Linked DNA regions of Homo sapiens: region 2 is linked to region 1. Evidence: fine-mapped expression QTL. Tissue or cell type: whole blood. Region 1 holds a variant in brackets; the other region holds the start of a gene. All regions are shown on one strand. Distances are from middle to middle.

Region 1 (8,107 bases):
AAAACCCCATCTCTACTAAAAATACAAAAATTAGCCGGGCATGGTGGTGGGTGCCTGTAATCCCAGCTACTCGGGAAGCTGAGTCAGGAGAATCGCTTGAACCCAGGAGGCAGAGGTTGCAGTGAGCTGAGATTCTGCCATTGCACTCCAGCCTGGCCAAGAAGAGTGAAATTCCGTCTCAAAAAAAAAAAAAAAAAAAACTCCACTATGGAAGTTAGTCTCTGATGAACTGTGCCTCCCTGGGTTCACAGATTTGTGCAGCCTCTCTCCTTAAATCTTGCATGGTTGGCCCTATGACTCACTTGCAACCAATATATGTGGCAGAAGTATGACACCACATGCTATCTGAGACTAGGTGAGAAGAAGGCTTGCAGCTTCCACCTTAGTTTCTTGGAATACTCTAGGAGCTCTGAACTGCCATCTAGGATGACCAACCACCCTGAGACTACCATGCTGGGGAGGCCATATGTGGGCACTAAGCAATGGTCTCAGCTGATCCCAGCCTTCCATCCAGAGACCTGACTTGTGAGTGAAGCCATCTTGGACTATCCATGCCAGCACACCCACCAGTTGAATACCAGTGAGTAATTTCAATTAACACGCTTGGAGTAGAAGAATCACCCAGCTAAGGCCTGTCCTAATTCCTGACTCATAAAATCATGAGATATAATAAAATGGTTATTGTTTTCAGCTGCTCCATTTTGAATCATTTGTTACATAGCAGTAGATCCCTCGAATGATAACCTAAAATTTGGAACTTAAAATGTTTCTCCTGGAAATAATCCTCTAAAAGTGTAATAAATGTATTAGATTGGGCTATATTCTAAATTAATTATAAATTAAATGGTTGGAGGGAATCTAAGAACATCACCACTGTTTAAAAATAAATGTACTTATTTATTATAAGTACATTTATAAAAGTATGTTTATTTTTAACATTATTACTGTAAGAAAATTTGTTTACTATTTCCAGTTGAAATGACCAGAAATGGGCTTTTGGAATAGAAAATTATAGCATTTCTTTTTCAAATCTGAATAAGACACACCTGCTCTTTTCTAGCTCCAGGACCCCATCCTGGTCCAAGGCTTCACTACTTCAGGCCGAGGTTACTACGGGAGGTCTCAGCCTCTTTCCCATTCGAACATTCAGTAACTATAGGTTGAGTTCCCACTATGGTCCAGGTGCTGAGATAGACTATAGGAATACGATAGTGAAAAAGACTAAACAATTCCTCCCATATCCACTGTTTTGCATGAAATTTTCAGATTAAGTCTCCAAAAGCATTACCTTTATTAAATCATTTCATTACTCAAGAACCTACAACAACGCCCCTTTTTCCTACTCAAACTAATTCAAATTCCTCTGCTTGGATTCCAAGGCCTTCTTCTAGCACTGACTCCCCATTACATAACTAGGGTTTTCCACTGCTCCACGACTTACATTCTTAACTCCTGGAAACTGGTCTTTTTCACTGTCCTTCATTATAATTTGCTAATTTCAAAGCCAATCTGATCTCACTGTGTATGTCCCTCTCCTTTGTGCTTGTCCAAATCCCATCCGTCTTTCCTCAGGTCCCACCTTCTGCAAGTGGTTTGTACCACACAGAATTATTTCAGAGGTCAGAGAGAAAACTCCTACATGGTATTTAATACCATAATTTATTTATTTATTTATTTATTTTTAATTTTTTTTTTTGAGATGGAGTCTTGTTCTGTCGTCCAGGCCGGAGTGCTGTGGCGCTATCTTGGCTCACTGCAACCTCCACTCCTAAGTTCAGGTGATTCTCCTGTCTCAGCCTCCTGAGTAGCTGGGACTGCAGGCGCCTGCCACCACACCCGGCTAATTTTTGTATTTTTAGCAGAGACGAGATTTCACCATGTTGGTCAGGCTGGTCTCAAACTCCTGACCTCAGGTGATCCACCCACCTCAGCCTCCCAAAATGCTGGGATTACAGGTGTGAGCCACTGCGCCTGGCCTTATTTTTAATTTTTTGAGACGAGGTCTCTTTGTGTTGCCCAGACTGGTCTCAAATTCCTGGGCTCAAGCGATCCTCCTGTCTTAGCCTCCCAAGTAGATAGGATTACAGGCACACACTATCACATCCAGCTTCATTTAACTCTTTAGAACCTATATATTTTTTCTATTTTATCAAAGAAACACACTCATAGTTTAAAAAGTGAAAACTACACTACAACCCTGAAAAATAGAAGTTCTGGTTCTGTTCAATCCAACCTCCATTTCTGTTCTCCAGGGCAACTACTTTAAATCTTTTAGCAATTTCTTCTAGTATTTATCTCCATGTTTCTAAATAACATGATTTTATTGCTGCTTCTTGACTTATGAATTATTATTATTAAATGAGGTTATAGCTCCTTTACACTAGCCTCCATCTGAATCAACGTATTTTCTTCTCTTTATCTTCTCAATATATATTTCTATCACTATTTTTAGTTAAATTAATATACAGCATTTACATGCTACATAATATTATTCCCAGCTTAGCCATGTAGTGCACTATAATTACATTGCCTACCTTGTACAACTTTTTGTGTTTTTCTGGATTTAAAAATTGCCTAACTTTTTCTACCAGTTTACTCTTAACACATTCCAAATAGCCACCAGCAGTATAAAGCTACTCTTGATATTTTGAAGGTATTGCTCCTTTTGTTAAGTCTGATTCTGAGTCCTAATCATTTGTATGTGATCTGAATTTTTCTTCCAGGCAGCTTTTAGTCTCTTTTTGTCTATATTCCTCTTTTCTTTCCTATTTTCCTTTTCTTTGTTTTCTTGTTCTCCTTTTGGAGATATTCTCTTAACTTTATTTTCAACTGTTTTCTATTGGCGATGTGTGTGTGTGTGTGTGTGTGTGTGTGTGTGTGTGTAATTAGGAGGATAATATCTCTTGGATGGACTGGGCATGATGGCTCACAACTGTAATCCCACAACTTTGACAGGCCAAGGCAGGAGGATCACTTCAGCTCAGGAGTTCAAGACCAGCCTGGGCAACATAGCAAGATCCCATCTCTACAAAAAATACAAAAAAACTAGCTGGGCGTGGTGGTATGCACCTGTAGTCCTACCTACTTGGAGGGCTGAGATGGGAGAATCGCCTGAGCCTGGGGAGGTTAAGACTACAGTGAGCTGTGATTGCACGACTGCACTCCAGCCTGGGCAACAGAGAAAGATCCTGTCTGAAACAAACAAAAAAATGTCTTCGATGTGCTGATCCCACCCTATGGG[G/GT]GGTGTGTGTGTGTGTGTGTGTGTGTGTGTGTAAAACTCTCTGGATTTTAATTCTCCAAATGGATGTTTTACATGAAATGTTTCTATTCACAGACCAATATCTTCTCTTATTATTCAGATAATATATATATCTTTTTTGAGACGGAGTTTTGCTCTTATTACCCAGGCTGGAGTGCAATGGTGCGATCTCAGTTCACCGCAACCGCTGCCTCCCGTGTTCAAGCGATTCTCTTGCCTCAGCCTCCCAAGTAGCTAGGATTACAGTCATGTGCCACCACGCTCAGCTAATTTTGTATTTTTAGTAGAGATGGGGTTTCTCCATGTTGGTGAGGCTGGTCTCAAACTGCCGACCTCAGGCGATCCACCCACCTCAGCCTACCAAAGTGCTGGGATTCCAGGCATCAGCCACCACCCCTGGCATGTTTTATTTTTTATTTAGCTTTTGTTTCCCAAATTTTCTCTGGAATCTGTCACTCATGTCAGAGGATTTCCTCACATGAGTGGTGGGCGTTGATATTCTAACAACTTGAGTGAGAAACTAAAACATGTTGGAAAACCTTGTGCATGTTGGTAGGGTTTAGAGATCGATGGGTTTCATCAAGGTGTGATTGGGCAGGAACTAGCCATTTCATTAGGAAAATTCTAAATGTCTTTTTTATTTTATTTTTATTTTTATTTTGAGACAAAGTCTCACTCCATCACCCAGGCTGGAGTGCAGTGGAATGATCTTGGCTTACTGTAACCTCTGCCTCACAGGTTCAAGTGATTCTCCTGCCTCAGCCTCCCAAGTAGCTGGGATTACAGGTGCGCACCACCAGGCCTGGCTAATTTTTGTTATGTTTAGTAGAGATGGGGTTTCGCCATGTTGGCCAGGCTGGTCTTGAACTCCTGACCTCAGGTGACCCACCAGCCTCAGCTTCTCAAAGTGCTGGGATTATGGGTGTGGGCCACCGTGCCCAGCCACTGTTAATTGTTTTCTTTGCTGTACAGAACTTTTTTAGTTTGACATAATCCCATTTATCTAAAAATAGTTTTGCTTTTGTTGCCTATGCTTTTGGGGCCATATCCAAAAAAAACATTGCCCCTACCAATGTCAGGGAGCTTCCCCCTGTTTTCTTCTAGTAGTTTCATAGTTTTGGGTCTTACATTTAAATCTTTAATCCATTTTTAGTTGGTTTATGAATATAGTATGAGATAAGGGTCTAATTTCATTCTTTGGCATGTGGATACTCAGTTATCCCAATACCTTTTATTGAAGAGACTATCTTTTCCCCATTGTGTGTTCTTGGCACTATTGTCGAAAATCAGTTGGCTATAAATGTGTGGATTTATTTCTGAGCTATTTATTCTGTTCCACCAGTCTATGTGTCTGCTTTTATGCCAGGACCATGCTGTTTTGGTTACTATAACTTTGTAGTATATTTTGAAGTCAGGTAGTGTGTGTGATGCCTCCAGCTTGGTTCTCTTTGCTCAAGATTACTTTAAATTCTTTTGTGGTTCCATATGAATTTCTGGATTTTTAAAAATTTCTATTAATATGAAGAATGTCATTGGTATTTTGATAGGGATTGCATTGAATCTATAGACCTTTTTCGGTGGTGTAGACCCAATGTGGTTTTATAACATTTCTTTTGAATTGGTTGGTTTCCCTAGAAAGGAGTTCTCTAATATTTTGCCAGGTTTACATAAGTCTGGCTGCCAGTTTTCTCAGAAGTGATGGGGTTACGCAATCTTAACATTCAGTTTGTAGGTTTTATTTCCCTGTTTTCAGTAGGCGACTCACCCCATCTTTGTGTGTGTGATGTCCCTGAGTCCACAGCCTCCCTGGTTCAACTTCTCGAGAGAGTGAGCTTCCTTCTTTCTGTTGTGCTGGGGGAGAGGACAATCTTCTGGCATTTTTGGTGGGGGGGAAATTGCATTCCAACAGATCTTTATATACATTTTTAACTAAACCCTCCTATTTTCAGCTCTACCCTGCACCTCAGCCTCCTGGTGTCTACATTTCCCGAGGCTGTCTGGTGTTCTATATAGAGAATTAACTTACTTATTGACATTCTGCCTGCAAGCTTAGGTTTTTAGCTTTCTCCAGGCTATTTAGGTAGTTACACATTTCCAACATTTTGTTGAAATCCTGTTTGCTGATAGTCTTCTTTCAAGTTTTCTTTATATCGTGGCTTTAGGCTTTGGCATTTTGTTTTTTTGGGGTTTTTTGGGTTTTTTTTGTTTTTTTGAGACAGAGTCTCATGGTGTCACCCAGGCTGGAGTGCAGTGGAGCGATCTCGGCTCACCACAACCTCTGCCTCCCAGGCTGAAGCAATTCTCCTGTTTCAGCCTCCCAAGTACGTCGGATTACAGGTATATGCCACCACGCCTGGCTAATTTTTGTATTTCTAGTAGAGAAGGGTTTCGTTGTGTTGGCCAGACTAGTCTCGAACTCCTGGCATCAAATAATCTGCCCCCCTTGGCCTTCCAAATTGCTGGGATTACAGGCTAGGCTTCAGCCACCGCGCTCGGCCTGGTATTTCTTTACTAACATTTTAGTGGAGCTTCAGGGGGTTTGAAGAGAAATGTGAATATTCAACCTCCCATATTTAATTTGCCACAGTTTGTATCTGGGTCTCCAGTTTAATTATGTTGTCACTCCGAGGATATAAGTTACTTGAGGGCAGTGACTATGGCTCGTTTCCTTCAACAATGCTTAGCTCAGTGCTCAGGATCTCACAAATGCTAATAAGTCCTCTGTACTGATTGAAATTGGAATTCAACGAGTGCCTATTAATTAACATGCTCTGCTCAAAAGTTGGTGGGATAAAATTATGAACAGGTTCCCATTGAAAAAGACCAGGATTCTAGTGGGGGAGTTAGGATAGTAGAAACCATAGGGATAGGTTCTATAAAAGCAGGGCCATGAGAGCACAAATAATGGATATTTTGGAAAACTTTCCTGACAATTTAAAGTTGATATCAGGGATCACTGCCAAGATGTTTAACAAAACTTGCCTCTCTATGCAGAACGTTAGGTTAAACGTACCATTGGTTGACCAGGTGTAGCAGCTTCCCTCATATATTTTTGTATTTTTTATTTTTTTTAGAGATAGGGTCTTGCTCTGTTGCCCAGACTGAAGTGCAGTGGCTCAATCACAGCTCACTAGAGCCTCAGGCTCCTAGGTTCAAGTGATCCTCCTGCCTCGGCCTCCCTAGTAGCTGGAACTACAGGCATGTGCCACCATACTTAGCTAATTTTAAAATATTTTGTAGAGACAGGGTCTCACTATGTCATCCAGGCTGGTCTCCAACTCCTGGGCTCAGGTGATCCTCTCTCTTTGGCCTCCCAAAGTGTGGGGATTACAGGTATGAGCCACCGCTCCCAGCATCCTCATGTCTTCAATGACCAAGGTTTCATTCTTGCTCAGCAAGTCACCTGATAATTAGTAATTATAAGGAGAATGGACATAATTGAGAAATAAACTGGAGAGTCTCTCCTATTTATTCATATTTTTACTGTGATTTGACAAGCTAATTTATTCTATTTTTAGAAAACAAGACGTATACATTTTACATTTTTTTCAGACTGTTTTTTCAGACTCCTTTTTCTTTCTTTCTTTCTTTCTTTCTTTTTTTTTTTTTTTTGAGGCAAAATCTTGCTCTGTCACCCAGGCTGGAGTGCAGTGGCACGACCTCGGCTCACTGCAACTTCCACCTCCTGAGTTCAAGCGATTCTCCTGCCTCAGCCTCCTGAGTAGCTCAAACACTTGACCTCAGATGATCCACCCAACTCGGCCTCCCAAAGTGCTGGGATTATAGGCATGAGCCACAGTGCCCGGCCTACAGAAATTAACATTTGTAAAGCCAAGTCCACACACCTAGAATTAAGCAGACAGATTTATAAGAAAACTGGCAGGAATGTTACCACAACCAGTGCATTCACTTAAACCCAATTAATAGAGTAGTAATCTACAATTACATAAAAATTGTTATTATTATTATTATTATTATTATTATTATTATTATTATTTTGAGATGGAGTGTCACTGTTGCCCAGGCTGGAGTGCAGCGGCATGATCTCAGCTCACTGCAACCTCCATCTCGTGGGTTCAAGTGATTCTTGTGCCTCAGCCTCCCCAGCAGCTGAGATTACAGGAGCACGCCACCATGCCTGGCTAATTTTTGTATTTTTAATAGAGATGGGGTTTCACCATGTTGACCAAGCTGGTCTCAAACCTGACCTCCTCAGGCCTCCCAAAGTGCTGGGATTACAGGCGTGAGCCACTGCGCCGGCCAAAAATGGTTATCTTTAATTGTATCAAAGAATTTTGCCGTGTGTCTTAGGTTGAGTTTGATGTGGAGAAGTGTCTCAGGCAGAAATTTGCTTGCAGAAGGTTAACTGGGGAGAGCTGTCAACAGCAGGATTAAGCAGGGACGTTGGACTGTGATGCAGTTGGCACGGAGGCCTCAGCCGATCTCATGGAGGAATCCCTGGAGCAGGGATGGCAGTGCTAACTGGGACAAGGGGCTAGGCCTCGCAGGCTGGCTGTCCCTGGGGAATGGACATAATTTTAGATGAAGCAGCTCCCTTCTGTAGAAGGGAATTCCCAAGGAGACTGAAAGCCGCCACTGCCTCGGTCATAAATTGGGAATTTGGGCGCTTGGGCGGCACAGCACAGCATCTACAACACCAGTGTTGCAGGACACTTAGGAAGCCTTTATATTGTCTATTTCTGCGAAGACTTGATTTTGTTTTTTGTTTTTTGTTTTTTGAGAAGGAGTCTTGTTCTTGTCACCCAGGCTGGAGTGCAGTGGTGCGATCTCGGCTCACAGCAACCTCCGCCTCCCGGGTTCGAGCAATTCTGCCTCAGCCTCCTGAGT
Region 2 (8,107 bases), 140 kb before region 1:
TATAGCCATATCCCAGAGCGTTTTCAAACCACAGATTACAGGCTCTAGCCCTAGATATTCTAACAACAACCGGTATGAGGTGGGGCCCTAAAATTTACATTCTCAAGGATTGCTGATGAGGCCAATCTGAAAATACACTAAGAGTAACATTGGTCTACACTTTTAGACTCCAAAACTGTTGTTCGATACAGCAGTCACTAGTCAAATGTGCCTAATGCAAATTGAGAAATGCTCTAAGTGTAAAACACACTTGATATTTCAAAAAACCTGGTCCAATGTAAAGAACATAAAATATCTCATTAATAATTTTCCTATTACATGTTAAAATGATATTGTGAATATACTAAGTAAAATATATTCATTTATTTCACTTTTTTTCCACGTGCTTACTTTTTATAATGTGAATACTAGAAACTTTAAGCACAAGTAATTTATATAGGCATTACATTTCTATTGGACAGCAGTGGTCTGTGGTCTGGCAGAACAGCATCCATATGACCAAGTGGATATTAGAAGTGCAGGTGATTCCTATGCACGTTAAAATTTGAGAAGCACTAGATTATCAACAGGGGAAGGAGGCTTAGAGACTACACCATTTGGCAGTTCAGTTCAATTAAAGAGCTAATCAATTACAAAACGAAACTGCAGAATATTCATTAAGTCCATGAAGTCAATGAAAGTAATAGGGAAATGGCTGAATCACAGCAAAGCCATATACCAATGAGCCGGGGCCAGCTAACTGAAGAAAAAAAAAAAAAACCACAAGGATAGTGGCCCAATAGGTTCCTCAAAAGAGGTAATCTGAAAAGCCCGATTTGAAGTACAGTGATGCTATGTCGTACTACGACACCTTTCACATCTGATTCATACTACAAAATAGTGCATATTTGCAATTCTAGCCAAAATTGTTAAATACAGGACAAAAGTTTAATTTCACTTTTCTCTCCCATGATTTATTGTAAAACTGTGATGCCCATTTTCTCAGGTAAGTAAAATATTAGTACTACTGTTTAATGGTTAAACAGATCACCACTATTTAGTTTTTACTCCATTTAAAAATTTTAATCACCCGTATTATTTTCAGTAATATCACTTACGTAGAGTACTTAAAAATTTGTAAAGTTCACTTTCTATCAGCCTACTAAAAAACCACTGAGCAGATTCTTTCTAATTAAAGAAAAGTCAAATGATTAACTACAAGTAACATGCTGTTTTTCTACAGCACTTAATCTATTTTCATTTGCACCTCGAAACAACTGGTATTAGCAAATATAAAACCGAAAGAGATGCAATGTATTGATAATTATATATGAACAACTAATATATATATAACTAACTATACAGACGGCATTATCTTAACAATCAATGAGTCATCAGTCTTCTCCAGCTTGATGAAGTACGAACAGAAATCTATCAACAAATATTGGCGCATAAATATACATACACACATTATATTACACTTCTGGGGTTTCTTTTTCCCCCACAGAGAAACACTTTTAGAACAGTGGAGCCGCATGCAACCAGGGGTCGCACATATGTGCGCAGACGGTCTGGCTCGTCAGGTGGCATGGGTGGGGGTCACGCTTTCACTGCCTGCTTTGGGCTCTCAAAACCCAGCTCTGAAACGTTTCCAAGGCAAAATAAAAATAGCCAAAATGCCTATTCAGACCAGAGGAGGTAGAGGAAGATGACCGATTCTGTAAAACACCCTCCTACAGATAAAGAAAAGGCGATATGGGCAAGTACACACACATCTAGGCCATCGTTCCCGACTTTTAAGTATGAAAGAGGCGTGGCTAGGGGCTAGATACTTATTTTTAACACTTCCATTGAAACACCCGGAGTCTCCCAAGGTCTAACCTCTAGAAGTCGGGTGGCAGAACCTGAATCAGAACCCGAGTGAGCCTTCCTTCCTCCACCACCTCCCTTTAGGAACGCATGCCTAAATAGTCGATAAAATCTACTTCTCAATGTCATGATTAACCCAAAAGCCAGCCACAACCAATCGTGTTATTAGAGTGCTAAAAGCCTCTATCCACAACAAACACTCCACTTGGGATGACATTAAAACTTTCGATAAAGGTGTACTTTCAACGTCGTGCTTTAGCCTTTGAAAATACATTTACAAAACTGCAGCTGCAGTCAAAAGGAAAACATCACACGCCTCGAAAGCTGAAGGGCGTGCCTTTTTCTCTAACGAAGACCGTGTGGCCATTTCTTCTCAAAGGGTCTGCAGTCACTTAAGATAGCAACGCGTAAAGGACAGCCGTTCTGAGAAGACAACCAGCTCCCCTGAGATGGGAGGCGGGCTGCACGCTGGTAAAGAGGATTTTTCAATTCAAGGACTTTGAGGAGATTCCGCCCAGATAAGCTGGAGGGGAGCGAATGCACGTCCATCCAGCAGGGGCAGGGCACCGGGAAAGACCGCAAAGAAGAAAGTGTCCGGTTTAAGGTCAACAGTCCTCGAGGGACGCCCCAGGTGGATTCCCCGGGTGGGCTCCCCGGGTGGGTGGAGGCCTGCAAGCCCCACCGCGATTAGGGAGTGGGCCCAGGGCGCGGGAGGGGCCGGGCCGGCCTTTTGCGCACACACACACACACACACACACACCCGCCTTTTGCAGACACACGCGCGCGCACACACCCGCCTTTTGCACATAGACACGCACACACCCGCCTTGTGCACACACGCGCGCACTCTCCCGCACTCACACACACACCCGCGCACCCTCACACTCTCCTCCCTGGGGGCGGGGCGGGCGGGCGCTGCCCTCACACAGGAAGTCAGGAAACCCAGGGGGCAGAGAAGCCACAACTTCGGGCCATTTAAACCCTCTCGCCCACGTCAGCCAATAGGCTGCGCCGGCCCCCTCCCCCTCGGCGCCTAACCCCCGCGCCCAGAGCCCCTCGCTGCGCGCCCGACCTCCCTTTGCGCGCACCTCCGCGGCGCCGCCGCCGCCGCCGCCGCGCCTCCCGCACACGCCTCCCCCCGACTCCACCGCCCTCGGCGGGCACAGCCCGGCCCCGGCGCGCCTTTGTGCAGCGCCTCGCCAACCTGCCCTCCGTCCGCCAGGACCCGCGCCCTGCACCTCACCGGGAGCCCGGCGGCCTCGCAGCAGGCGGCTCCCTTCTTAGTCCGCCCCGCGGCTGCGGGTCGACGACGCGAGCCCGAAGAGCGTTCACACGGCTACGGCCGCGGCCGGCCCGTCCCCGCAGGCTGGCCTCTGAGGGAGGGTAAGTTACAGGGCACGTCGGAGCGCGCCGGCGCGGGGGCGGGGCTCACGTGACGCGCGGGGGCGGGGCGGGAGGCTCACGTGATGGCCCGGGCGAGCTGGGCGGGCGCGGGTCTCCGGGACGGTCTGGGGTGGCTAGGGGGTGCGGCGCCCGGCGGGGATCCGAATAGGGGGCAGCCAGCGTACGGTGTGGGAACTCGGGCCGGCGCGGGAGCCTGCGGTCAAGGGGGCTCAGCACTTTGTAAACAAGGAGTGGGAAGCGTTAAAAAAACGCTCGTAGGGAAAACCAGGGAAGGGCGGACATAGCGCCAGGGTGGCAGGAATGGAGCCCGGGCAAAGACGGCCCTGCCGTGGGCCCTAGCGCTCCCTTCGTCGGCCCCTGGAGCTGCGGCCGGGCGTGGGTCAGTCGTTCACGGGCCCGGAAATTCCACTGGGACACCCGAAAAAGTGCTGCACGCCGCCTGAGGGAGACGGAAAGGGACCCGGGGCACTGAGTCCATTGCTGGGGTCGCCAGGGTACGTGGCAGGACCCGCTGTGCACACTCGGGACTGAGGAGACCCCTGGGACGCGGAGAGCCGCTCCAGGGCAGAACCAGTCCGTCAGCATTTAGCCTTCCACGGGCCTGAGGGTGCGAGCCCTGCGGGGGCCACAGGGTCATTGTCCAAAGTCATCCCCGTTTGCACTGTGGCAGCACCGAACCCGGAAGTAACAGCTTTGGCAGGTCTTTGATGGTGATCCAGTGGCAGGAGGAGCTCAGCTGGAATGGGAATCAGGAAAGAGACCTGGCTTCTGCCATTTATTGGCACTTCACCCTTCTGAACCTCAGCTTTCAAATGAGAGCTGGCTTCTAGGTCTAGAATACAGTGAGTGTGAGAAAAATAACTGAGAGGCGTTGGGACTTCAGTAACTACTCATTCCTTAACCAGTTGTTGATTGTGCCTGTTGTGCCAGGATGAAATATTTGTTAATAATAGAGACCAGAAAGGAGAGGGGGGAAAAAACAAGCATATGTATGATTCAAGCAATGAAGAGCTACTCTCCGGAGTTGGCTCTTTCCTGTGCTTCACTTCGTACTTGAAGATGCCACAATGCCTGGCTTCCTTATCAACCAGCTGAACTCCGAATTGTGCCTTACAGGATGCGAAGAATCCGGTAGGGCAGTGGCAAGACTTTAACAGCTGTGGTTTACAACCTTCTTATTAAATTAAGTCTAATGCGAGCTAAAGTGTTAAGATAGTCTCCATTTAGAAAGGAAAGAGGCTTACAATGAGAATTTTTGAAAAATAAGCCTGAGACTGTGCTGTCTCTATCGTTGCATTTGCTTTTCACAGTCCTTGGCACCCACTGCCTTTTTGTCTCCCTCGGTTTCTAACCCGTTCTGTTTTCTTGCATTTGTTCAGTATAAGGAGTATTTCCTGTATGCTTTGGCAACTATTTTCCATAGACTCTGCTTGTGTTCTCCTTATAAAACCAGAACAAGAGCAGTGCAAAAAAGAAAACGACCCTGATAGGAATGCGCTGATAACCTTACTTTCCCTACTCTCCAAACCTGAATTGGGCACCCTTGGTTTTAGCAAGAGATAGAACTCAACAGTTTGCATACACTTGCGGATCTGCCTGTAACCCCACTTCCTATTTCACAGCCTAATCTCGGATGATACCACAATGCCCACAGTATGCTGATCACCACCAACAGCAGATGGAGGCGGATAAAAAGAGCTTTCTCGCTAGTGTGTTGTTTTAAAAGAACCTGATGGAGAGCTATGATCATATGTAACACTGCCTCTAGTTAGTTTTTAAATAACACTTGTAGCATATGTCTGGCGCCTGTGCTCAGGATTTCAACAGATCATTTTCAGGATTTTGACATTTAACTGGCTTCTTATGAAGTAGCAGAGAGTTCCAAAATGTAGAACTGAAATATAAGCTCCACACACAGGCAGAGATTTGAGTCTGATTTGTTTGTGTGTATATCCCAAGTGCCTAAAAGCACTTGGCATACGGTAGATGCACAATAGATTCCTGTTAAATGTATTTTTAGGTGAAAATGTAGTCTGTACTTTGCATAAACTTGTCCTACTTTCTTCCTAGTTCTTTAATAAGTAACCTACTTTTCATTATATATTTTTAAATGAAAAAACAAAATTATATCTGGCATCACTACTTTGGCTGGGCTATAAAGAAACAGGAATTTGGCAGTATGTATTAAAATTACAAATGCATATATACTCGGAGCCTTGAATTTCATTTCCAGGGATTTATGCCACAGATGTTTCCACACATAAGAAATAACAAGGTGTTTCTTATTGTTGAGAATAGCAAAAGATTGGAAACAAGCTAAGTATCTATCAACAGGATACTAGTTAAATTATGATAGAGCCATATGTTTGAACATTGTGCAGCTGTTAATCAAAAAAACAGAAAGTTCTTTGTTTTAACATTAAGATCTCCAAGATTTTTTTGTTAAGTGAAAAACACAGAAATACGGTACAGAATATTGTATTAAATTGTATATGCATTAAACTAGGACAAAGTAACATGAGGTATGAGAACACAGTAGATGGAAAGCATAAGAAATAGACTTCATTGTATTCATATTTAAACTTTTTGATATTCAAAATTTCAGAATGTTTTATCTATTCAAATAGTGAAAATGTTTAAAATTTTTCTGGCATCTTTTTGTTGTTGTTGTTGTTATTAAAACATTCAGGCTTCTTCTGTTTTATAAAAGTTTACCTGAGTAAAATAAACATATCAAGGAGGCTGGGTGCAGTGGCTCATGCCTATAATCCCAGCACTTTGGGAGGCTGAGGCGGGCAGATTGCTTGAGCTCAGGAATTCAAGACCAACCTGGGCAACATGGCAAGACCCCATCTCTAATGAAAATACAAAAAAAAAAAAATAGCCAGGCATGGTGGTGTGTGCCTGTGGTCTCAGCTACTCCAGAGGCTGAAGTAGGAGGATCACTTCAACCCAGGAGGTGGAGGTTGCAGTTAGTCAAGATTGTGACACTGCACTCCAGCCTGAGTAACAGAGTGAGACCATGTCTCAAATAAATAAATAAATAAATAAATAAATAAAATCAGGTAAGCTAGTGCTCATAGGCAAACTTTTGAAAACCTCAGAGTTTTTGTTCAGATTGAATGATGTCTGTTTCTTACCGTAATAATTTAAAATCCAGGTACATTTATTTTGAGGCTTAGTATACATTTTATCAAATGTATATAAATTTTCAGAAGTACTCTATTTTTCTTCAAGTTTAGTAGAGCCTTCCTTGAACAAGTTTTAACAAATTGGATCCTCCATTTTAAACAATAAAATTAGAATTTCATGGATCATTTGTCTGTTAATTAAGGTCAACAAAATATATTTTGGGAAAAACGCTAAAGGCATATGTTTCTCGTGTATCTGTTCACTCACCCATTTTGTAATATCAACTGCTTCTTGTTTCCATGGGTTACACAGATGCCCTGTAAATGATTTTGTCTGATATGTTTCAGTATTTGATTATATTTATTTGTGGGCTTAATTTCCAGAAATCTCAAAGAGAATAATGAGTACAATAGCAGTCAGATTTGCATAACACATCTTTAAGGGTTTTAGGAGATTTATTAATATTTTCTTGTGAAATCTCACTGCTTTCACTATATAAATTCATATGATCAGTTTTAACTATTATTAAAGACAAATATTAGTACTTGTGGTCAGGTGTGGTGACTCACACCTGCAATCCCAGCACTTTGGGAGGCTTAGGCAAGTGGGTCACCTGAGGTCAGGAGTTCAAGACCAGTCTGGCCAACATGGTGAAACCCCATCTGTACTAAAAATACAAAAAATTAGCTGGACATAGTGGTGCACGCCTGTAGTCCCAGCTACTCAGGAGGCTGAGGCAGGAGGATTGCTTGAACCCGAGAGGCAGAGGTTGCAGTGAGCCAAGATGGTGCCATTGCACTCCAGCCTGGGTAACAGAGGGAGACCCTGTTTCAAAAAATAATAATAATAATTAGTACTTGTAATAGTTGATTATACAAATTAGGACATTCTTGTCATACCCAACTAACTCAAAGAGTCCAGGAGTGGGGGGAAAAATCACTCAGGGCACATAGCACCAGCTCCAAAAATTAAATTTTCTGCAAGCCCAGCTGCTAAAACAGCCTGCTGTAACCATAAGAATAGTTTTACCTAGTAGCTGCTGAAATGACCTACTGTGACTCATAGACTAGTGTTACCTACTGCTGTCTTCAGCAATCAGAGTTTGCCAGCTCCCCAAAGCTTCTCCAGTAGCAGTGAGCTTTCTTTTAAAACAAAACATAACATTTCTCCTTCTAATAAACTACCAACCTTCTTTTTGTTCTTTGAGCATACCAAAGACCACCTGTATGTGCATATATATATATATATATATATATATATATATATCCCAAATTCCAATTCTGTGATTCCCAAATAAGATGTTTAGAGATTCATCTCTATATTTTATTTTGATTTCTACATACTTGAAGTCAGAAGTGGGATCCAAAGCAGGCTCACCTTGGAGAATTAGCACCTGGAATGTGGCATGAAGTACCCAAATTCAGGCCTCTTGAGCCCCCAAACTTCTACGAGCCACCTCTTTTCCCCATGGTGAGTCTCTGTTGGCTTGAACTCATATTTTTTCTTTTGGTTTAGTTCAGTTTTATTTGGGAATTGGTTGGGAGGCATCCTTCCCCGCTACCAGCTATGAAATCTTCTGTTTAGGGGAACTTTCTCCCTCCTTGCTATAGACTTGGTTAAGATGAATACGTTTTTCTTCCTGGTTATGAGGACTCCTGTTTAAAAGGGATTTTTTTCTCTCTTTTGTTAAAGAAGGCTTATTATCCCTCTTGGGGAGTACATA

The links. PIP is the estimated chance that this variant, and not a neighbour inherited with it, causes the effect.
Region 2: ARHGAP12 starts here. The variant in region 1 is fine-mapped to the expression of ARHGAP12 in whole blood (INTERVAL, PIP 0.98).

The regions. Positions count from the first base shown.
Region 1 is chr10:32,061,069-32,069,175 of GRCh38, forward strand. No RefSeq gene overlaps it. Among named protein-coding and RNA genes, the nearest start is that of KIF5B, 8.7 kb to the left of the region's middle. The variant G/GT (reference allele first, on the strand shown) is at 3,242.
Region 2 is chr10:31,925,592-31,933,698 of GRCh38, forward strand. ARHGAP12 (Rho GTPase activating protein 12) reads right to left here and starts at 3,240. Exons shown (of 20, transcript NM_018287.7): 1 at 3,092-3,240. LOC107984219 (a long non-coding RNA gene) reads left to right here. Exons shown (of 3, transcript XR_001747415.2): 1 at 1-2,452; 2 at 3,071-3,231. RefSeq lists a silencer at 2,912-3,411.